Linked DNA regions of Homo sapiens. The protein of the gene in region 7 purifies or fractionates together with the protein of the main gene of each other region. This does not show direct contact. Each region holds a gene or a part of one and is shown on either strand. Other genes may lie near its edges.

The links.
Region 1: the proteins of LTF (region 7) and OASL purify together in Homo sapiens (pull-down; one large-scale study listed by IntAct). This does not show direct contact.
Region 2: the proteins of LTF (region 7) and PRTN3 purify together in Homo sapiens (affinity purification with mass spectrometry, with the first as the bait; one large-scale study listed by BioGRID). This does not show direct contact.
Region 3: the proteins of LTF (region 7) and MYB purify together in Homo sapiens (co-immunoprecipitation; one large-scale study listed by IntAct). This does not show direct contact.
Region 4: the proteins of LTF (region 7) and ATF2 purify together in Homo sapiens (co-immunoprecipitation; one large-scale study listed by IntAct). This does not show direct contact.
Region 5: the proteins of LTF (region 7) and CCP110 purify together in Homo sapiens (co-immunoprecipitation; one large-scale study listed by IntAct). This does not show direct contact.
Region 6: the proteins of LTF (region 7) and PPARA purify together in Homo sapiens (co-immunoprecipitation; one large-scale study listed by IntAct). This does not show direct contact.

What each region holds. Positions count from the first base shown.
Region 1 is NC_000012.12:121,022,247-121,025,746, forward strand, and holds part of OASL (2'-5'-oligoadenylate synthase-like protein), read right to left. Parts: intron 1,892-3,500; coding exon 1,744-1,891; intron 1-1,743.
Region 2 is NC_000019.10:846,337-848,675, reverse strand, and holds the end of PRTN3 (myeloblastin precursor), read right to left. Parts: coding exon 2,299-2,339; intron 927-2,298; coding exon of another isoform or gene 906-926; exon of another isoform or gene 878-905; coding exon 707-877; 3' UTR 501-706; downstream 1-500. UniProt on the Homo sapiens protein: Serine protease that degrades elastin, fibronectin, laminin, vitronectin, and collagen types I, III, and IV (in vitro).
Region 3 is NC_000006.12:135,198,308-135,201,807, reverse strand, and holds part of MYB (transcriptional activator Myb), read right to left. Parts: intron 2,901-3,500; coding exon 2,758-2,900; intron 2,283-2,757; exon of another isoform or gene 2,227-2,282; intron 1,724-2,226; coding exon 1,609-1,723; intron 1,519-1,608; coding exon 1,393-1,518; exon of another isoform or gene 1,251-1,392; intron 170-1,250; coding exon 59-169; intron 1-58. UniProt on the Homo sapiens protein: Transcriptional activator; DNA-binding protein that specifically recognize the sequence 5'-YAAC[GT]G-3'. Plays an important role in the control of proliferation and differentiation of hematopoietic progenitor cells.
Region 4 is NC_000002.12:175,161,704-175,165,203, forward strand, and holds part of ATF2 (cyclic AMP-dependent transcription factor ATF-2), read right to left. Parts: intron 1-3,500. UniProt on the Homo sapiens protein: Transcriptional activator which regulates the transcription of various genes, including those involved in anti-apoptosis, cell growth, and DNA damage response.
Region 5 is NC_000016.10:19,544,442-19,547,941, forward strand, and holds part of CCP110 (centriolar coiled-coil protein of 110 kDa), read left to right. Parts: intron 1-355; coding exon 356-457; intron 458-652; coding exon 653-769; intron 770-1,375; coding exon 1,376-1,449; intron 1,450-1,970; coding exon 1,971-2,033; intron 2,034-3,500.
Region 6 is NC_000022.11:46,157,026-46,160,525, reverse strand, and holds part of PPARA (peroxisome proliferator-activated receptor alpha), read right to left. Parts: intron 1-3,500. UniProt on the Homo sapiens protein: Ligand-activated transcription factor. Key regulator of lipid metabolism. Activated by the endogenous ligand 1-palmitoyl-2-oleoyl-sn-glycerol-3-phosphocholine (16:0/18:1-GPC). Activated by oleylethanolamide, a naturally occurring lipid that regulates satiety.
Region 7 is NC_000003.12:46,447,906-46,451,405, forward strand, and holds part of LTF (lactotransferrin isoform 1 preproprotein), read right to left. Parts: intron 2,769-3,500; coding exon 2,590-2,768; intron 2,124-2,589; coding exon 1,949-2,123; intron 1,113-1,948; coding exon 958-1,112; intron 1-957. UniProt on the Homo sapiens protein: Transferrins are iron binding transport proteins which can bind two Fe(3+) ions in association with the binding of an anion, usually bicarbonate. Lactoferricin binds to the bacterial surface and is crucial for the bactericidal functions.

The DNA.
Region 1 (3,500 bases), on a different chromosome or scaffold from region 7:
CAGCTAATTTTTGTATTTTTAGTAGAGATGAGGTTTTACCATGTTGGCCAGGATGGTTTCGATCTCTTGACCTCGTGATCTGCCCACCTCGGCCTCCCAAAGTGCTGGGATTACAGATGTGAGCCACCGCACCTGGCCAAGTTTTGTATTTTTAGTAGAGACGGGGTTTCACCATGTTGCCTAGGCTGGTCTTGAACTGTTGGGCTCAAGGGATCCACCCGCCTCAGCCCCTCAAAGTGCTGTGATTACAGGCGTGCGCCACTGCCCCCAGCCTACAATGGCTTTTATATTCAGGAAAAATCCAGAGGCGTATATTTTCCAGCCCATGGGTGGGCCTCCTCATTTGGCCAGCGGGTCCCCCCGTTTATACTCTATGTACCTTACTGGAGCCTCTGATTCTGCTTCTGCCTTCTGCTCCAAGCAGTTCAGTCTCCTGTCCTGTACACATCTTGCTCATCCCAGCCTCCCATCCTTTACCCCTCATCATCCTTTGTCCTCTGTTCTGAGTGTCTATATCTCCCCCCGGCCTTTAGGGCTCATTTCAACTCCTAACTTTTTAAAGGAATCTTCTCTGGTGACTTCAGTTAACATTTATTCTGCTTCCAGACCCCCAGAGCCCCTGGTTCTGCTGCCTCTTAGCAGAGTGCCCTTAGTTAATTAACCTCTCTGAGCCTCAGTTTTCTCTTCTGTAAAATGGCAATAATAGTAATGATGATAATAATAATAAAGATAGTGATAACACTCGACCTTCTTACTTTACAGAATTGCTTATGAGGATCAACTGAGACAGACCTTGGACAAGAGCTTTGCACACTAGAAAGTGTGATGTTAATAAAATAGATTTTTGTGATCTCTGCCTATACTATAGGTTTGGCATCATATAATAATATGACTTAGTATTTTTTGTTTGTTTGTTTGTTTTCAGAGTATCTTGTCTTCTCTGGTAATTCTAGCAGTTTTGTGTAAGTTTGTTTCATGGATTTGCTTCCTGACAACATAGGGTGAGTTCTCTGAGAGTGAGGGTGGTGTCTTTTTTTTTTCTTTTTTTCTTTTTTTTTTGAGGCAGAGTTTCCCTCTTGCTGTCCAGGCTGGAGTGCAATGGCACGATCTCAGCTCACTGCAGCCCCCAGCTCCCGGGTTCAAGCGATTCACCTGCCTCTGCCTCCGGAGTAGCAGGGATTATAGGCACCTGCCACCACGCCCGCCTAATTTTGTATTTTTTTAGTAGAGATGGGTTTTTTCCATGTTGGCCGGGCTGGTCTTGAACTCCTGACCTCAAGTGATCCACCTGTCTTGGCCTCCCAAAGTGCTGGGATTACAGGCGTGAACCACCGCACCTGGCCGAGCGTCGTGGTCATGTCTTATTTCTGTGCCTGTGTTGTCCCCCAGCCCACATCCCCTACCCCATCCCTGAGAACAGCACTGGCACAGAATGGCTGATTGAGCTGACTTGGCTGGACCCAACTCACGCAAAGAATGATCAGGAACACAGAACTGATTCTCCAGTAAATTATGGGAAAAAGAAAGGAAAGGAGAACAAGAATTTGAAGGTAAGAAACCCAAGGCTCTGAGAGCCAAAGAATTTGTCCAAGTTCACGGAGCCCATGGGTGGTGCAGCTGGCCCTTAAACGGTGACTCTAAAGTTCTGTTCTCCATCAACACAGAACTGAATGAGTAAATACTGAGTAGTTTATCTGTCGTTCTGACCTTCAAGCCCTTGACAGCCCAGAGAGGAGCCATTACCTTCACGTTCCAGCTGGAGATGGGGTTCTCCCTGTTGTCATAGCAACAGTCCTGTTTCAGGCACTGGGAGGCCCTCTGAGCAACGATGTCCCATCTGTACCCTTCTGCCACGTTGAGGGTGGGGTCGGCCGGATCCAGGATGATGGGCCTGTAACACAGGAAAAGGGTGCCCAGGCTCATAATGGTTTGAAGGCCTTCAAGCCAGAAAAAAACCTTCTCGGCAATTATTTCGTCCAGCCACTGAGAATTGTGATATCCACATCCCGGGGATGTTCAAGAGGGCCCCAAAACACCGCAGGAGAGTAACAGGATGGAGACAATGCTATTTCCAAGAATTCCTATCTGGGCCAGGCACAGTGGCTCACGCCTGTAATCCCAGCACTTTGGGAGGCTGAGGCGGGAGGATCACTTGAGGTCAGGAGTTCAAGACCAGCCTGGCCAACGTGGTGAAACCCTGTCTCTACTAAAAATACAAAAAATTAGCCAGGTGTGGTGGTACGCACCTGTCATCCCAGTTACTCAGAAGGCTGAGGCAGGAGCATTGCTTGAACCCAGGAGGTGGAGGTTGCAGTGAGCCAAGATCATGCCACCACCCTCCAGCCTGGGTGACCGAGTGAGACTGTCTCAAAAAAAAAAAAATTCTTCTTCTTTGGGATAGTGCCTTAAGTGTTTGCAAGGAATTTAGGGGGAGAATGAGGCCCCAAGAGGCATGCTGGAGTAATAACAGATGCCCTTTCAGGCAGGGGGGGCCCTGTACCTTCGGAGCAGGTTTTGCAAGTTTAAGTTTAAGGTTAGAGCTGCTGAATTACTTTGGATAGTAGAAACACCACTGCCACCAACTACTGACATTTATTGAAGCACAAGGCCAAATCCTATGCAGATTAACCTATTTTAATCTTACAGCAATTCTATAAGGTAGGGACTGTTATTTTTATTGTTTATTGTTGTGGTTGTCCCCTTTTTACAGACCTCCCTAAGTTCCTTTTTTTTTTTTTTTTTTTTTTTTTGAGACAGAGTCTCGCTCTGTCGCCCAGGCTGAAGGGCAGTGGTGCAATCTCGGCTCACTGCAACTTCCACCTCCCGGGTTCAGCCAATTCTCTGCCTCGGCCTCCTGAGTAGCTGGGATTACAGGTACCCGCCACCACGCCCAGCTAATTTTTGTATTTTTAGTAGAGATGGGGTTTCACCATCTTGGCCAGGCTGGTCTTGAACTCCTGACCTCGTGATCCACCTGCCTTGGCCTCCCAAAGTGCTGGGATTACAGGCATGAGCCACCGGTGCCCGGCCTAGATTGCCCTAAGTTCTTACAGCCAGTAGATGGGGGCTCTTACCCATCTACCTCCTCAACAGAGCAGAGGTTGGGCTGCCCCCAAAAGTCTCTCCTTTCTATAAATATTGAATAAATATTTTAAAGAATATTGGCTTGAAGGGGATCTTGGGCTTGCTTATTAACTTGGGGTGACTGCAAGTCCATGATTAACACCAGCTCTTTGAGTGGGGCGCAGTGGCTCACGCCTATAATCCCAGCATTTTGTGGGGCCGAGGTGGGCAGATCACTTGAGGTCAGGAGTTCAAGACCAGGCTGGCCAACATGGTGAAACCGTGTCTCTACTAAAAATACAAAAATTAGGGCATGGCGGCAGGCGCCTGTAGTCCCAGTTACTTGGGTGGCTGAGGTGGGAGGATAGCTTGAACCCAGGAGGTGGTGGTTGCAGTGAGCCAAGATCGTGCCACTGAACTCCAGCCTAGGTGACAGA
Region 2 (2,339 bases), on a different chromosome or scaffold from region 7:
CTGCCTGGACTGTGCCCCCTGCCTGGCAGCCCTTCGGATGTTTCTGTTCACACCTTGATATGCAGCTCTGGCACTGCCACCTCCTCCAGGAAGCCCCCCAGGCTGCTTCCCCATCCCCATCCCCTTCCTCAAGGAGTCCCTGAGCCAGCAGGGACAGTTCTAGGAAACGTCTGGGGCGAGTCCATTTTCCAGATGAGGAAACTGAGGCACGGAGATGAATAACAACCTGCCCAGGGCCACCCTGATGGGGCCGGGTTAGAACCCACAGCCACGAGCATCCAGGAGAGAGACCCCCTGCAACCTGGGCCCCCATCCCCCGCTCCGACTCCCCCCATCCTGAGTTTGGGGCTCGGGGACTTGAACCCAGGGGACCTCTCCCTGGTTCCCTCCCTATATGGGAAGGACAGACAGGAGCCAGGGGGAGTTTCAACGTTTATTGAGGTCACGGTGGGCAGTTCCCCCTCCCCTCCCTATATGGGAAGGACAGACAGGAGCCAGGGGGAGTTTCAACGTTTATTGAGGTCACGGTGGGGTGAGGTGCAGGGCCGGCCTGTCTCCCGGAGCCCCGTGGGAGGGAGTGTGGGGGGACGGGTGGGGCCGTCCCGGACGCCACAGTGTTCGGGGAAGAGCTGCTTCTGTCCAAAGATCCGCCTCGAGGGTTTGGAGCCAGGCTCGGGGTCCCGGCCAGCGCTGTGGGAGGGGCGGTTCAGGGGCGGCCCTTGGCCTCCACACGGCGCAGCGTGGAACGGATCCAGTCCACGTAGAGGGCTACCCGCGTGAAGAAGTCAGGGAAAAGGCGGGTGGCACATCCCCAGATCACGAAGGAGTCTATTCCTTGGATGATGCCATCACAGATCAGGGGGCCACCTGAGTCTCCCTGGAGGACAGGGACGGCCAGTCACCCATCAGGGGCCACCTGAGTCTCCCTGGAGGATGGGGACGGCCAGTCACCCATCAGGGGCCACCTGAGTCTCCCGGGAGGATGGGGACAGCCAGTCACCCGGGCTGGCCCCAGGCAGCCAGGAAGGGGGCTGGGGTAGCCACAGCTGTTTCAGAATAAAATGCTTCCAATATGGAACTTTCTTTCTTTCTTTCTCTCTCTCTCTCTCTCTCTCTCTCTTTCTTTTTCTTTCTTTCTTTCTTTCTTTCTCTCTTTTTCTTTCTTTCTTCTTTCTTTCTCTCTCTATCTCTTTCTTTCTTTCTCCTTTTGTTTTGTTTTGTTTTGTTTTTGTTTTGTTTGCGACAGAGTCTCGCTCTGTCACCCAGGCTGGAGTGCAGTGCCGTGATCTCGGCTCACTGCAACCTCTGCCTCCCGGGTTCAAGTGATTCTCCTGCCTCGGCCTCCCGAGTAGCTGGCTGTCTTTCTCTCGAGACAGGGTCTCGCTCTGTTCTCCAGGCTGGAGTGCAGTGGCACAATCATAGCTCACTGCAACCTCGAACTCCCCAGGCTCAAGTGATCCTCCTGCCTTAGCCTCCTGAGTAGCTGGGCCTACAGGCTCACATCACCATGCCCAGCTAATATTTAAATTATTTGTAGAGATGCCACCCTGCTATGTTGCCCAGGCTGGTCTTGAACTCCTGGACTCAAAAGATCCTTCCGCTTTGGCCTCCCAAAGTGCTGAGATTACAGGCGTGAGCCACCACTGCTGGCCTGGAATTTTCTTTAAAATGTGTGAGCACCAGCCAGGCATCACTTGATGCCAGGAGTTCAAGACCAGCCTGGTCAACATGGAGAAACCTCATCTCTACTAAAAATACCAAAAAAATTAGCCAGGCACGGTGGCAGGTACCTGTGCACCTAGTTACTCAGGAGGCTGAGGCAGGAGAATACCTTGAACCTGGGAGGTGGAGGTTGCAGTGAGCTGAGATCTCACCACTGCACTCCAGCCTGGACAACAGAGCGACACTCCGTCTCAAAAACAAACAAAAAGTGTGAGCAGGGAGGGGCTGAGGTCTTTCGTAGGAACTGGGCATTTATGGGCCTCCCGCTGGATACCTGGAGTCCTGGATTCTGGAAGGGGCCGCCGGTGAGGGCGGATGGGTCTCCCACACCTTCCTGTGGTCCTAGAGGGGAGTGGGGGGCAGGGAACCCCCAGACCCACCCAAGCAGCCAGGTGCAATGTGAGCGCCCCCACCCCGCTGAGCCTGCCCGTTGGGTGTTGGGTGTGCCCACCTTCCAGGTGGGGAGACTGAGGCACAGCATGAAGCCACACAGCTAAGAGGTGGCGTGGAACCCTGGCCGCCGCCCTCCTCCCCTCATGGCAGCCCGGTGCCCGGGGTGGGGGCACGGTTACTTACGAAGCAGATGCCGGCCTTGCGGCGAGGGACGAAAGTGCAAA
Region 3 (3,500 bases), on a different chromosome or scaffold from region 7:
GATTTCATGAGGCACCAGTGTCACATAACAACTTGGGGGCTGGTGCACACGTACTTACCGGTGCATCTGCCACAGGCGAGGTCTGCGTGAACAGTTGGGTATTCAGACTGTCCCCTTCCCAGTGGTGTGAGCAGAAGAAGTTTCCTGATTTATCAGTTGGAGATTCCACCTAAAAGCATATAGAAAGTGCTTTGTTGTTTCTAGAACTTCCTATGAAACATGTACAGTCAGGAGTATATTTCTGGCCAGTCCCTCAAATACTTTTATAAAACTATGTTGCTAACTTACACTATCAGCTCAATTTGCTCTATCTTCTGGATTCAACAAAGAAACACTGATGGCAAATTTGAAATGTGACTAGCTCCAAATTTACTGCCCCTGTAAAGCTCCTACGTTTTCAACCAATGTTCTGATTCTAGGTGTTTATTCTATTAAGAATATATTTTAATGATACACCTAGTAGTGTTGTATCCGTCAAGGATTTTATTTTGGTGACATAAAAGATCTTTTGGTGACAAAAGACTGGTTTTTAATCACATTCTGGTAAAATTCTCCATTACTAAATAATCAAATCAGATTTTTAGCTATAAAAAAAAATACTTATCTTTACATGAAAATAAATTCAAGAAGCACTGTATCTAACCTGGTGGAAAACAGCTGTTGCCAACAAGCTAAAACTTTGATCCTTGCAGGTTAGATTCTCTTTTTTAATTTTAATTTTTATTTTTTTTGAGACGGAGTCTTGCTGTCTCCCAGGCTGGAGTGCAGTGGTACGATCTTGGCTCACTGCAAGATCTGCCTCCCGGGTTCACACCATAATCCTGCTTCAGACTCCTGAGTAGCTGGGACTACAGGCGCCCGCCACCAAACCCAGCTAATTTTTTTGTATTTTTAGTGGATACGGGGTTTCACCATGTTAGCCAGGATGATCTCGAACTCCTGACCTTGTGATCTGCCCACCTCAGCCTCCCAAAGTGCTGGGATTACAGGTATGAGCCACCGCGCCCAGCCTCCCTTTTTTTAATACAATTAATTAAAGATACTATTATTTTAATTTAAATTCCAATTCTTCACATCTAAAAATGAAATATCAACTTTATATAATCAGTAATGTTTAAAAGTACATTAAAAACCTCTTTCCCTCCCTTTTCTTGATACTCTCTAGTATGTTTTCTGTCCAAACATGAAGTAGATAGAGATGGCTTGGCTTCCCAAAGGAAAGGTTGATGATGCCTACAGTCTGGCAGTACCTTTTCGCTGCACCTTGTATGAAAATCTTGCACGAAAAGTCGTGGTGTTGCACAGTGCCAATGGCAGACACATCAAGCTGCACACAAGGAATAAAGGGGGCAGGATTCTCAGCTTGTTGCTTCCAAAGGGTTGCGTGTTTACCTCTTGTTTGATTTTCTTCAGTAAGGGTGGTCCATTTTCTTGAAACTCAGCAACAATTCCAGATTCATCAGATTCCTGTTTGATCACATCCTGCAGATCTTCTACTAGATGAGAGGGTGTCTGAGGCTAAACGGAAGAGTGGGTATTTTTGCATCAGAGAGAACTCCTAATGGGACTAATAAACCAATGAAATCCAAAAACTTTTCTAGAACTTACTAGCATCTTCAGGGGACCGTATTTAATTTCTTGAGCTGCAAGTGCATGTTTGAATGGTGTAGGAGTTCTTGGAGAGCTTTCTAAGATTGACCTTTTGATAGCTGGGGTTCTAAAACTTTAAAAAGAAAACAAGCAGTGGCTCAATACAAAAGAATAAATGTCCCTACATGGCTTTACCTGTTACATTTAACATTTTTCCACTGAATACAATAAACTCTGTTCCGGATATGGAATTGGGGTGTGCTGATTAATCACGTTATTCGTTAAGAAAAAGAGAATATGCATATCACATATTTTCAAATATTTCAAAATATTATACCTCGAAGACTAAAAGCATTAAATGATTTAACATCTTTCCTTAATGGCTCTGAAGACACATGTAGTGCCTATGATCTGTATAAGACTATGAGCATCAAGAAGACCTGATGTCATTTACAAATCAGGTTTCCCTATTCATGAAAACAGAGCCCATACTACAAAACATGTTAAACTTTTAAAATTTACTTTTTGTACTTCGAAATAACAGTGCATTTCTTTTCAAGGTTTCTGATAATTCACACTTTCTCTACCATTTCTCTGAATTGATTAAGGCTTTATTGAATAAAAATGACTGCTTACTCATCCCTTGGCTTCTAATCATATAATATTCCTGGGGATGTCAGAAGAGGTCCTATCTACACATAAATTCAAAAAGAAAAAATAAGATTAAAAAATACAAACTAAAAATAAATAAATAATAAACAAATAAAATTAAATAAAAATACAAACTAGGTAAGAAACCATACTCGTTCTTATTCTGAAGCTTACAATTAGAGAGGAAAGGAGGTTGAAAATCTGGCTTTCATAAGAAGGCCTTATGGAGGGAACAAACAAACCGAATGGAAAAGTTTTATGAAAACTACTTGTGCATATATAGGAAATTTTGGAGTAAGTTACAAAAGGAATCTAGTTTATCTTCCCATCTTCTACCTGTAGGTAGTTGTAATATGCCCAGGACAGATATATTCAATGTGGGAATAGACATGATTATATATAAATGGTCAGTAAAATTATGCACATACAAGTGGATCAGACATCTGGGAACTATATTCCATTAATTAAATATAAGTAAATAAGATAAATCATTTTATTCCTGAACCAAAGACTTACACAGTATTTTCCTTTTGAGTTTTCACAGTCTGGTCTCTATGAAATGGTGTTGTAACAGTCAATTTGTGACCAATGAGGGGGGTGGAAGTTAAAGAAGGCATTTCCAAGTCTGAGTTTTCATGGTTACTGGAAGTGTTTAAGAACTAAATATGGAGAGAAAGAAAAAATACTTAGATTAGATGGTAATTCTTTATTCTCCCCAATTTAAAAATCACACCTAGATAACAAGAATGTTTTCCTGACCCACTATATTAAATAATAAAGATGCTAACAAGCATGTTATATTGACTAGGGTATTGTTTTATTTCAATTGAGCACCCAGGATTTGGGTGTGGTTTCCAAGAAATAAAATTTAGGGTCATTGCTGAAAAACTTGCAAAACTGTGAGAAAATACTCTCAATAAATGACACTTGTCATTAAAGAGAATGAGATGTGTTCTTTATTAACATTTAAAAGGCTTTAGTGATTTTGGGGAAAATAATAGTTAATAATTAATAGTTTCCTTTCATACTTTGTTTTTTCTCTTTAATAATCTATGAACCAAAATTAGTATTACAGAAGGTTTACATTATATGGAAAATTCTTGAATAATAAACTGTGTCTCTCAGAACACTAAAGTTCTGGGAAAAAACTAGGTGTTCCTTAAACAATTCCAAGGTAAAATAAATTTGGGAAACACAACATATCATAATCTCCTCCTGGAAATTCACAAGGCACAACGGCATATTAATAACTCTGAGAA
Region 4 (3,500 bases), on a different chromosome or scaffold from region 7:
AAATCATAATGACACATTCATAAGACAGAACTATGAAATGTATAGTTCAGAAAGTAACTCTTTTTTTTTTTTTTTGAGACACCGTCTCGCTCTGTTGCCCAGGATAGAGTGCACTGGCGTGATCTTGGCTCACTGCAACCTCTGCCTCCCAGGTTCGAGCAATTCTCCTGCCTCAGTCTCCCGAGTAGCTGAGATTACAGGCACCCGCCATCATGCCCAGCTAATTTTTGTATTTTTAGTAGAGATGGTGTTTTCTCACATTGGCCAGGCTGGTCTCGAACTCCTGACCTCAGGTGATCCACCTGCCTAGGCCTCCCAAAATGGTGGGATTACAGGCATGAGCCACCATGCCCAGCCCAGAAATTAACTCTTAAACTAGCATTAAAATACTCAGTGTACAAACCACATAAAACTGCATGAAATCTAAGAATTATTGTTACCAGTCTGTCAAAAGTTTTGGTAAACTTTAAAAGAAACAAAGACAGTAAAATGTCAGAAAATATGAAATACACAATATTTGTCACATCACATAGATCACTGGTAGATAAATAACTATAGTATGATATGGCCAACTAAATAATTTTAAAACTGCTAAATAATACAACTTATTCCCAGAAATAATTCCCAATTAGGTAATCACGCTTCATTAATCATAACTCCCAAGTTCACAAAAGTATGGCAAAGCTAACGCATTCATGCTCTGCTGACAGTGTAAACTCGCTCAAGTCTTTGGGGAGGCAAAAATCTGGCAACTGTAGAAACATTTATATCCTTTGACTAGTAATTCATTTGAGATTAGTATCCTATAGAAACAATTCATAAAAGAAAAAATGCACAGAGATGTTCAATTCAATGTCAAAATAGGCATAAACTGAAAACTATTATTTTCCTGTCAGGCATTTAGAACAAATTTAATACTTATTTTTCAACTATCAAGTAACAATCAAATATCATAAAGGTTATACAACATGGAAAAATACAATGCTATAAAAGTAAAATAAAACTTATTTGATATAATTCTGTAAAAACTGCAATATATATGCACAAACTAGAAGAAAACAAAAATAATGAACACAATTATTTGTTAGTATGGCAAAACAAGTTGATATATAAAAAAATTGTTCCGACACGTTTAATAAATAAAAGCAGGCTGGGTGCAGTGGCTCATGCCTGTAATCCCAGCACTTTGGGAGGCCGAGGTGGGCGGATCACAAGGTCAGAAGATCGAGACCATCCTAGCTAACACGGTGAAACCCCGTCTCTACTAAAAATATTAAAAAATTTGCCGGGCGTGGTGGTGGGTGCCTGTAGTCCCAGCTACTTGGGAGGCTGAGGCAGGAGAATGGCATGAACCTGGGAGGCGGAGCTTGCAGTGAGCCAAGATCGTGCCACTGCACTCCAGCCTGGGCAACAGAGCGAGACTCTGTCTCAAAAAATAAATAAATAAATAAATAAATAAATAAATAAATAAATAAATAAATGCAAGCAAACATACTAGCCCGAACAGTAAAATTAGAAAAACCAAAGCTATAACATTGGAGCAAAGCTAAAAAAATTAGAATGACAAAGGTTTCGGTTCTGCTAGCAAACTAAAGAATATTTAGGGAATATATTTATAAACTTATGGTCAATATTATAGATAAAAATACTATATATTACAAAAATAACCAAAGTCCATATGGTATTTTGCCAATTACAATTATTTCTCCCTGTCTTTCCCTACCAGTCTTGTTGAGAATCTCTGTGGTAATAAGCCACTACTACTGTTGGAAGTATTTTGTATTCCTTGGGTAGAAAGGCAAAAAAGTGGCTGAGAACCACTATCTTTGTTAAGATACAGAATGCAAATATGGGTGAATAGGCAAAGCCCCCAAAACATTGTTTACATCTCTTCTTTACTGTCAATGTCAAAATGCCAAGGAAAAAAAATCAATAAACATACTTAAAAAATGAAAAATGATGCTGGGTGGTGGCTCATGCCTGTAATTCCAACACTTTGGGAGGCCGAGGCAGGTTCGAGACCAGCCTGGCCAACATGGTGAAACCCCGTTTCTATTAAAAATACAAAAATTAGCCAGGTGTGGTGGCGGGCACCTGTAATCCCAGCTACTCAGGAGGCTGAGGCAGGAGAATCACTTGAACCTGGGAGGCAGAGGTTACAATGAGCTGAGAGCGGCACTGCACTCCAGCCTGGGTGACATAGCAACTCCGTCTCAAAAAAAAAAAAAAGAAAAGTGAAAATGAATACACTAGTTTCAAGGTTGCCAACAAGAATAAATTGAAAAGATATATATAATGAATACATATTTATTTATAATTATATAATATGTAACATTAAATACACCTGTAACACAATGTGTAAAAATAGGCCCGGGTGCAGTGGCTCATGCCTGTAATGCCTTAAAAGTGAAAATGAATACACCAGTTTCAAGGTTGTCAAAAAGTCTCAACAAATTGAAAAGACACATATAATGAATACATATTTATTTATATTTATATAATATGTAACATTAAATATATTTATATTATAAAATAATGTGTAAAAATAGGCCTAGTGTAGTGGCTCACGCCTGTAATCCCAACACTTTGAGAGGCCAAGGCGAGTGGATCACTCGAGGCCAGGAAGTCGAGATCAGCCTGGCCAACATGGTGAAACCCCATCTCTACTAAAAATACAAAAATCAGCAGGGAATGGTGGTGCACCCCTGTAATCCTAGTTATTCGGGAGGCTCAGACAGGAGAACCGCTTGAATCCGGGAGGTGGAGATTGCAGTGAGCCAAGACTGCACCACTGCACTCCAGCGTGGAAGCCAGAGGGAGACTCTGTCTCAAAAATAAAATAAGATAAAATACAATTACTGATGGCCTTAAAGATCCACAAATTTCCTTGATTTTCTATGAAACTATCTTATACCTTACTATATAACCTTTTAACCTTGAGAAACATAACAAAGGAAATAAAATGTTCTCTGGGGTTTTCCTTCAAATAGAAATAGGTGAATACTATCCTACTACTTCAACATTAAAACTTACATAAAGAGAACATGCAGCATTTTAGACAAGTTCTTAGCCTTGAGGAACAGGTGTGAGTATGAGATAAACACAGAAATACTAAATTAAACTCCAGATTATAACAATACTAAGTGAATTTTTTGGTTTTTGTTTTGTTTTGAGATGCAGTCTCATTCTGTTGCCCAGGCTAGAGTGCAGTGGCACGATCGGCTCTCACTGCAGCCTCCTGCTCCTAGGTGCTAGCGATTCTCCTGCCTCAGCCTCCCCAGTAGCTGGGATTGCAGGCGCCTACCAACGTGGTTTCACCATGTTGGCCAGGCTGGTCTTGAACTCCTGACCTCAGCTGATCCGCCTGCCTCAGCCTCCCAAAGTGCTGGGATTACAGGCGTGAGCTACCACACCTGGCTAAGGTGGGATTTTTTTTAGGGTACATTTTAATTATACAAAATAACCCAACAGGTGCTATATGCATTGACTTTTATAAAAAT
Region 5 (3,500 bases), on a different chromosome or scaffold from region 7:
ACAAATGATGGTTGTGTCTGTACTGAACATGTACAAATTTTTTTTCCTTGTCATTATTTCCTAAACAATATAACAACTATTTACATAGCATGTACATTTATTAGGTATTTTAACTAATCTAGAGATGATTTAAAGTATATGGGAGATGTGCTTAGGTTATATGCAGATAACTATTTTATATAAGGGACTCCAGCATCCTTGGATTTTGGTATCTGAGGGATTCATGGAACCAGTCCCCCACAGATACTGACGAAAGACTGTAATTTTGGATTGACTGAGAAAAAGAAAAAAGCAAACTCCAGTGATCACAAATCTTTCTAGAAAAATGTTTTTGAAGGAGCATTTCTTTTTTCAGGATACTATGGAATTCATAAGAAGTTTTCAGTCAGAAGCACCATTAAAGAGAGGCATTGTTTCAGCTCAAGATGCTTCACTTCAGGAAAGAGTGTTAGCTCAGGTAAATACATGGATCCTGAAGGCTTTTAAGACATGGACATATTATATTTCTCCTTTTTTATTTAATCACTGAAAATAGGTTTCAATGAAAACTATTTTAATCTTTTTCTATAAATAAGTGTACATGGTATATAGTATTCCTGAACTCTAACCTCATCTTTTAAATGTATACAATATTTTCTTCTCTTGTGCCTAGTTGCGAGCTGCCTTGTACGGTATTCATGACATATTCTTTGTAATGGATGCAGCTGAAAGAATGTCTATTCTACATCATGATCGAGAAGTTCGCAAAGAGAAAATGCTCAGGCAAATGGTATGTTATATGATTTCTAATGAATAGAGTTCTTCTGGGTTTAGGGTAATTGATACTAAATGTCAGTTTTGGTTGACTTCAGCACCCTTCTTCTGATAATTCTTAAGCACAAGTAATTCCTGGAATTACTAGCAGCATTTAAATCTGTAGACAGATTTAAAAGAATTACATCATTTAAGAATTACATATTGTTTTCTTATTGGATTTTAGAGTTGAAGCTTTGAATGTTTTGCTCAGATGGCTTATACAATCTATCAGCTGCTCCTGATTGAATTTCCTTGAATTCAATTATAATGTGGGTTTTGCTTTTTTTGAAATCTGAGTTAGAAAACAGGCTCCAAGTTAATTTGAAGTATATCAGAGTATGTGATTTGAATCAGTTATCTTAGTGTGATTGGCAAAGGAAAAGCAAGCAAAATTTACATAATTCTAATTATTTAATTCTTAGAATTAGACTGCTTCAAAAATACAAAACAAGATGATTTAACTAAATTAAAAATGTTAGTAGAGAGAAGCTTTTCCAGGCAATGTGGGATTATAATACATTATAATATAGTGGTATTAATTGGTTCCAGTAGAGTTTGACGTTACTTTTGTATATTAAAGGATAAAATGAAAAGTCCACGAGTGGCTCTTTCAGCTGCAACACAGAAGTCTCTTGATAGGAAGAAATACATGAAGTAAGTTTTTTGTATCATGTCATGTTAGTTATCAAACCAATTAATTTTAGTCATCTGTTGGTCTATTTGCATATTTAAATTTAGAAATAAAGAGTTAATTTTTCTGCAGTTGAGCTGATAGAAATCCCCTTTATATAAAGAAATTTATTAAAATCAGGTGCTAAAATCTCATTTCATCTTAGATGAATTTATTTACTAAATTTGACAACATTCAACTCATATAACTGATAGCTGGTTAATCTTAAAAACAGTTAATCTTTATATTCAGTGCCTAAATATATTCCTTTTCTGATGTCCTAAAGGTTTCTTGGGAATAAAGACTTAATGGGAAAAATATCTTAATAACTTTTTTAAAAAATTCTTCTTTCTTGAATGCAGTCTTTAATATGCTTAGTACAGGTCTTCCAGTAGTACACCAGCTTCTAAATGATGATTTGTTTCTGTCATCCTGTATTACATTTGTAAGCATGTTTTCTTCCCTTCTCTAAATACATTATGTCCTTATTTTTATATTGTGTTAGAGCTGCTGAAATGGGAATGCCAAATAAGAAATTTCTGGTTAAACAAAATCCTTCTGAAACAAGGTGAGAAAAATCACTTAGTCTTAATGAGAGGCTTTTTGTTTTTTATAGAAAAAAAAAATTGGCTGGGCACGGTGGCTCACGCCTGTAATCCCAGAACTTTGGGAGGCCAAGACGGATGGATCACCTGAGGTCGGGAGTTTGAGACCAGCCTGACCAACATGGAAAACCCCATCTCTACTAAAAATACAAAATTAGCTGGGTGTGGTGGCACATGCCTGTAATCCCAGCTACTCAAGAGGCTGAGGCAGGAGAATCGCTTGAACCCGGGAGGCAGAGGTTGCAGTGAGCCAAGATTGCTCCATTGCACTCCAGCCTGGGCAACAAGAGTGAAACTCTATCTCAAAAAAAAAAAAAAAAAAAGTTAAAAAATTAAAATTTAAATCCCAAACTTCATTTTTGTTGACTTTGTTCTACTTGACATCAGTAGAGCACTTCTTGCTGAATTGGGTCGGGGGTCGTCCTCAGGCTCAAGATTCATACCAATACCTGGCCATATACCTAGTCACATGTCAGACCAGATGTGCCCGGACCTTTTGTAGGACATGCTATCTGTGGTAGAAATTTTGAGCGTGGTATGTCTTGAGTTCAGTTAGACAGTCCAGAGGATCTTTGATACTTATTTAAAAACCTTAGAAAGCTAATTTAAGCTGGGCTGGGAGCAGTGGCTCATGCTTGTTATCCTAGCAGTCTGGGAGGGTGAGGTGGGTGGATCACGAGGTCAGGAGTTCAAGACCAGCCTGGCCAAGATGGTGAAATCCTGTCTCTATTAAAAATACAAAAATAAAAGATACAAAAAGCCGGGTATGATGGCGCGTGCCTGCTCAGCTACTCAGGAGGCTGAGGCAGGAGAATTGTTTGAACCTGGGAGGCGGAGGTTGCAGTGAGCCGAGACTGCACCACTGTACTCCATCCTGGGCGACAGAGCAAGGGTCCGTCTCAAAAAAAAGCTAACTTAAGCTGGGCACAGTGGCATGCTCCTATGGTCCCAGGTACTCGGGAGGCTGAGGCAGGAGGATAGCTTAAGCCCAGAAATTCAAACCAGTATGGGTAACATAGTAAGACCCATCTCAAAAAAATAAATAAATAAAAAATAAAGCTAAAAAGCGAACTTTAATATTTCTGACCTGTTTTTTACTCCTGTAAAATGAGAGTGATACTTTCTTCTCTCACTGGTTTGAAGGGAAAAGTTAGCTTTTGTAAAGCATATGTATAAGAAAATTATCTAAAAGCACAAGGGTTAGTCTATATGTTGGACATTTCTTTGCTGATAAAAACCTAAGGTTTGGACTCTTAGTGAGCAAAATACAAGTATCATATTAATATGCTTTAGTCGATTTGCTCTGATTTGTGGTAATATATAGGCCATATTATTGCATAGTTGACCTTTACCTTACAGTCATCATCTTTCATCCGTTGAAAGAAAATGGGAAAAAATGGAATTTAACCTATTAAATTAATTTTTCATTT
Region 6 (3,500 bases), on a different chromosome or scaffold from region 7:
GGGAGTTTGAGACCAGCCTGGCCAACGTGGTGAAACCCCATCTCTACTAAAAATACAACAATTTAGCCAGGCATGGTGGCGCGTGCCTGTAGTACCAGCTATGTAGGAGGCTGAGGCAGGAGAATCGCTTGAACCCAGGAGGCAGAGATTGCAGTGAGCTGAGATCGCACCACTGCACTCCGGCCTGGGTGACAGAGCGAGACTCCATCTCAAAAACAAACAAACGAACACCAATATAGATTTCTTATATTGGCATCCTGCTAAATACTCTTCACATTCTCTGTTCCCACGTGAAGCCTGGGACTTTGAAGGCATTGCTACTGCTCTGAATTGAAAGCTTCCACTTACAGCTTTCTGCTGGAAAGATCCCCGCCAGCTGCCACCCTTAGCTGGGAATGGGAGCCTGCTCCTCTGGGTTCAGTGCACCAGCCCTGGATCCGCACTTCCCAGCCCTTCGCTGGCGGTTCAAGACTGTGGTTTTCAGGCTGCTGCAGTGGTGGTCGGCGTCTTCCAGTCACAGCTTGTGATCGGAATCTCTGTCCCTACACTACTTCTGGGTGTACACACCTTCTTCCCTGGGTCTGGAAACCTCTCTCTTGGCTTCGGAGGAATTCACTAGGCACCCACAACCCACCCTCAGTGTCATTAGTCATCACTTGTCACGCAAGTTCTTTGAACGCTGTTAGTGCCAGCTTTTTCTCTCAAGGATCCTTGGCTTCAAACACATTTAAATACCCTCTCCCCTTCATGCCTCTCATTTTCCAAAGCCTTCTTCCCAGGATAGCCCTCTCCTTTGAGTCCCACCTTCAAGATCTTCGCATAATTGAACTTAAAAAATTCCCTCTTTCAGAACACCTTGCTGAATAGACTAGACTAGGCTTCTTTTTATGATTTGAGTATTACAACAATTGAGTGCCTTCCTTTCTGGAAAAGGCTAACAAAGCGAGTTTTTCTAAGGAAAGAAGAGAATGAAAATCGCGTTCTAAACTTTTGTGCACTTCTGATTGCTTGCTTGTGAATCACAGGGAAGCCGTGCAGAGATGGGAAGCCCAACCTCCCTTGCCTGTATCTGGTGACAGGTTCTGTAACAGTTGTCAAAGTGGGGGGAAAAAAACGACAATCGTACAACTCAAGCAAAATACGCTGCTTCACAAATTGTAAAGTCCAAGGACACTGTCAACAGGTCAAATACTGCCCTGCTTGTTTCTATTACAAAAAACTTTTACATACTAAGAGATGATTCCAATTTAAAGCACATTTCTAACTTCTCTGAGCATTTTTTTCTTTAAACATCATTTGTGTTAATTTCATCCCCAATGCACAGATAGAACAGAAGCCAGGTGTGGTGGCTCATGCCTGTAATCCCAGTACTTAGGGTGGCTGAGGCGGGCAGATCACTTCAGGTCAGGAGTTTGAGACCCAGCCTGGCCAACATGGTGAAAGCCCGTCTCCACTAAAAAATACAAAAATTAGCCGGGCGTGGTGGCACATGCCTACAATCCCAGCTTCTCAGGAGGCTGAGGTAGGAGAACCACTGGAACCCCGGAGGCAGAGGTTGCAGTGAGCCGAGATCACGCCAGTGCACTCCAGCCTGGGCAGCAGAGCGAGACTCCAGCCTCAACACCCCCGACAAAAAAAAGAGACACTATCCCAGTTGTCAAGCTGCCTCATAAAATGAGCTAAAATGAGACTGCAGTCTAGAATTTATCAAATTTACTCATAATCCTAGGCAGAGGGCAATATGTTCCTCATGTTAGCAGCCCACTCAATGTTATTTTGTTCCATGTGGAAAACTGCCTGAAAATGCTTCAAAAAATTCATCCCACTTAAATATCCCTATTACCATTTCTTCCATAGATAACAGAAGAAAACTTGTTTCAGATCATCAAGATTTGCATGTCACTTGATTGGCAATCTGTATTTTACAAGCCATATTGCTGAATTATAAACACGCATTTAAATACTCATGTAAAGCTGACCACGAACTTCTTAGAAAGGGACATATCCACGTGTCAACCTCTAAATAACTGGGTCTCTTTTACTGAAACTTGGCAATTTGTCACCTTGGCGTGGTTATCACATAACTTCAGACGTATTCAGTTACAAACAAATGCAAAAAAACTTGGGGCCTCACTCTTTTTTTTTCTGAGATGTGCAGTGGTGCGATCTCAGCTCACTGCAACCTCCGACTCCTGGGTTCAAGCAATTTTCCTGCCTCAGCCTCCTGAGTAGCTGGGATTACAGGCACCTGATACCAAGCCTGGCTAATTTTTGTACATTTAGTAGAGACAGGGTTTCACCATGATGGCCAGGCTGGTCTCAAACTCCTGACCTTGTGATCTGCCCACCTCGGCCTCCCAAAGTGCTGGGATTACAGGTGTGAGCCTCCACGCCTGGCCTCGCTCACTCTTAAAAATGAAAAATGAAAAATGAAAGGGGGTGGGGGAACTTCAATATTCTGCTTTACTATAGCCTCATCTCAAACCATTCCTATGAAGCTCATAATCTTGGAAGCCATTAGTCCTTCTGTATTTGCCTTCCTAACTCTTACTATTCAAAATGATGCTCTTTCGAAAGTTGGCTTGTGGTCTATAAGTTAAAATATAAAGCAAGTAAATCTGAATAGAAATCTTCACTCCTCTTTATCTGCAAATCTCTTAAAATGGAGCAAAATAAAAGCATTCCGATGAGTCCTGCCTCCTGGAACACAGACGATATTTCATCTGAGTTTTCTCCAATTTCTCCTGGGAATATTTTAATGTGACAGTCAGAGCAGGAGAAGGACCCTCACCTTGTTAAATATCAGTGCTGCCCACCTCACTTCCCTTTCACCATACCCCTTCCCTATGAAGTCAGTTGTGTTGAATTTAAATCCATGATCTTGCAGAAAGAAAGAGGATTTTATTTAAATAGATCCTCAGGTCATCTTATAAAAATTCTATTTAATCCATAATATACCCCAAATCTAGTGATGATTATGAAGGGGACCCTTTCAGCGGCAGCCCTCACCTTCCTAACACCGCTGTAATGGGAGGTACATATTGGACATCTGGAGGAAACACCTGCTCCCTACAGAAGGAAGAAGAGCTCTCTCTCAGTCTAGGTGTGGGGGAAGCTGCAGAGGTCTGGGACAATTTCGCTGCGGTGGGATGGAGCGGGCCATCATCCGTAGGTGCCGCTGTCTGCACTCCTGTTTAGGTGCCTCCCCCTTCAGCCAGCTCCCACCTACATCTCAGTACTGTGGTGACCACACAGGCCCATCAATACATTCTTCTTGAATTAAATTCTATTAATCAGGTACTTATTCAATGAACATTTACAAGTACCTACTCAGTTTACACGGCTAGCGGGGCAGAAATAAATAAGACATCCTCTCTGCCCTCAAGGAGTTAGACTCAGCGAGGACAGTCAGACTAACAGAAACAGGGGTGCAGGCAGCACCGGGTCCTGGCTTGACGGAACTGTGTCCAGGCATGGGGAGATTCACTGGGCCTGCATTT
Region 7 (3,500 bases):
AATATTTTTACAACTATATTAAAAATAGAGAAGTGGACAAAGATTTCTACTCAAGAATGCTCACCACAGGGTTATTGATAATAGCAAAGTAAGGGACAAAGAGGAATGGGGGCATGACTAAACTGAGCCATATTCACATAAAAGATATCCTGGAAGCATGTTTAAAAAATGTTTTCGTCCGAGTGCTGTGGCTCACACCCGTAATCCCAGCACTTTGGGAGGCCGAAGCAGGAAGATTGCTTGAGCCCAGGAGTTCGAGACGAGCCTGGGCAACAAAGCGAGACCCTGTCGCTACAATAATAATAATAATAATTATGCAGGTGTGGTGGCGTATGCCTGTAGCCCCAGCTACTTGGGAAGCTGAGATGGGAGGATCACTTGAGCCCAAGAGTTCCAGGCTGCAGTGAGATGTGGTCGCACCACTGCACTCCAGCCTGGGTGACAGATCAAGAATCTGTCTCTTAAAAAAAAAAAAATTAATGCTTTCCAAGAGTAAATATTCATGTGGAAGAATGCCCATTATACGCTGTTTAGTGAAAAGGGCTTAAAAACGACATACTGCAACACTTCATTATTGTTGCATGCATATCTGCAGATGTGCAGAGAAATACTGGAATGGAGAATTAGCCAGACTTTAACCATGTCTGTCCCTCTGTGTGAGATCACAGGTGGTTTGGGGGGTTTGTTGTTGTTTTGTTTTAACATAATACCTTTCCATATTTTCCAAATTCCTTATAATAATCCTGAGTTGTTCTTATAACCAGAGGAGTGGGAAACCCACAGTAAACTGCTTTTTGAAACTAAAATGCTTTCTGGCCCTGAGCACACCTCTCCAGGCATCCCTGCCTCACCCAGGCCCCCGTGGCCTCTTTGACTGTTGACTTCACTTTAAGCAGATGCCCAGGCCCTAGGTCTTCCACCGGGCCCACCGCCCGCCCCTGTGATGGAGCTCCCTACCAGCACCAGGGCGATGCAGTCCTCTGTGGTGGAGGCCGAGGAGCAGGTCACGCTGCCTTCGCTCAAGCCACTCCACTGGTTACACTTGCGCAGCTCCTGCTCGCCCACCGCACACCACACGACCCGCGCACGCCGGGCAGCCACTTCCTCCTCACCTGCCAGAGGGAAGACCGCAGGTGGCTGGGCAACCTGAGCTTTGCCAGGTTGTCCAACCTCCCCAGAGCCAGGGTCCTGCCCAGACTCTCCCTGGAACAGGAGCTACAGTACATGTGTGGACATGTGGACCCATACCCTCTCCTCCTCCACTTCTCAGCTCCAAGCCCCTTCTTCAGGTCCACAGAGCTCCCTGTGTTTCCCACTTCTGTTCCTTTGGAGAAGTTCCCTGGCTTCTAATCTATCCATTAATCTTTAGAGTCAGGAGGCGCCTATTGTCTCTGTCTCTGAGGATAAACGCTCCATGACCCAGAGACCAGTGACAGTCCCAAGAGATGGCCTAGGGGACCTTGAGCCCAACCCTGACTTCCCCTAACGCCTGCAATCACCACCAATAACTACGGTGCAGCCTCTGGGTTCCCCCAGACTCCCACCCCCAGCCCCCCAGTAGAGAAGGAGCCATAGCTGAGTTCCCCCACCATGGTGTCCCCAACTAAGTTCAAGGTCTGGGCCTGGGAAGTGTGGGTAAATCCAGGCCCCCGGATTCATCCAGGAGGGGTCCTGGCTATCTTTGTTCATGTTCATGTTTCTCACTTAATAGGAGGCAAACTGATTTTTCTGCCAGGCCTGGGGAGCCTGACGTGCACTGATCAGGTGGCCAGACTATTCTTTTAGAGACACCTGACCTAATCCACAGAAGACACTCACACCTGCATCAAACCTCCACGATGACCCCACAGTGTCTGGGAAAAGGAGTGACCGCCACAAAGTAGGGCCACCTGCTGGGAAGTAGAAGACCACACCAGGCGGACCTCAGGACCCTCCTGGGCTCACTCACTTTTCCTCAAGTTCTGGATGGCAGTGAAGTAGCCGGAGCCAAGGTACAGCCCAGAATCTATCCTCGGGGGCACCCTCGAAAACCCAATGGCAGAGTCCTTGAACAGCAGATCTTTCTGCCCACTAGGGGAGCCAAAGAGCTGGAATTTCGGTGACTTGTCCTTTCCAAACTTTTCCTAATTAAGAAAAAATAGAATTATGGTGTCAATGGTAAATAGGGAGGAAACAAAAAAATGATGTTAAAAAAGAGTATCTGGAGCTTTGGGATCATTCTAACTGAGAGCAGGAGCCTCGGTTGAGACCCTCCTGCAGAGGGACTTGTGCCATCTCGGAGACCCAAGCTCAGCTATGGCTCATTCTTTGAAGAGTTGCTGAGGTCCAAGCACCTTAGGGCCCTGAGAAGATTGCATCGACCACCCCCTGCTTCTGCTCCCATCATAAGACGCTGTCAGCCCGTGTGACAGAAGAGTTTCATTGCTTCTGCTGTCCACAGTACAGCCTGGGCAAGCAGCCCAATGCATTAGTGTGCTATCCTGCAGCAAAGCTACAGGACTTCTGGAGTGGCAGAAGTCAGGGAAGTAAGAAACCTTGCTCCCTGCCCCCCATATCCAAGCAAGTGGGGAGGACCGTGGGTGAAGATACCTGTGCCTGGCGGAGAAGATTCCAGATGGCATCCTCCTTGCCATTCACACTTCGTGCCACAACGGCATGAGAAGGGACCCGGGCCAGATGGCAGTCTTTGAACTTGTCCACTGGCTTCCGAGTGTTGTCTGGGCAGAGTAACTCATACTCGTCCCTTTCAGCCTCGTCTGACAGGTCCTCTGCAGGGAAGGTGAGGTGGGAGGGAGTCTAGATAAGCCGACTCCAGCAGTAACCTCGAGCTATAGTTCCCCTTCTCCCTATAGAATTTTGAGCTTGGGGAGATAGCTGACAAAACTGAGGGTCAGAAAGGCAGGGGTTTGCTCCAGAACACTCAGAAAGGTAAAGGTAGTGCCCCAAAAGCCTCAGGGGGCAGCCGAGGTGTGATCCTCATCCTAAATCACTTAGGCCACCCTGGGGTTCCCGTGCAGCTGCTGCCTGGCAGGCCAGAGAGGCCAAACCAGACCCGTCTGTTTCTGCGGCATCTCTGCCTGGAAAAGTCACTTTGCAGAGACAAGCTCAGGGGGCCACCAAGGGTTGCTCCCTTACTCACATCTCTGGGAAGAATAAAAATGACAAAAATGTTAACAAGGCAGGGAATAAGGCAGGAAGGTGAGACACTTTCCAACACTGAGTATATCAAAAGAAGGGGAAGAATGGTTTTATGAATGAGTTCAGGCAAATGTGGAATATCATATATAAGTTGCTTCAGAATGTGTAAAGTGAAAAAAATCTTGCCCGAGTCATTTTATGAGATTAGTACAACCTTGATGTCAAAATCAGAAAAAGTATAGGAGGGAAGAATTAAAAGTTTATTTTACTTACGAACATAAATGCAAAATTTGTAAATAACGTACTAACTAACTCAATCTCACAGAGTATTTAAAAAGCTAATAGATTGGAATGAAGGTTTA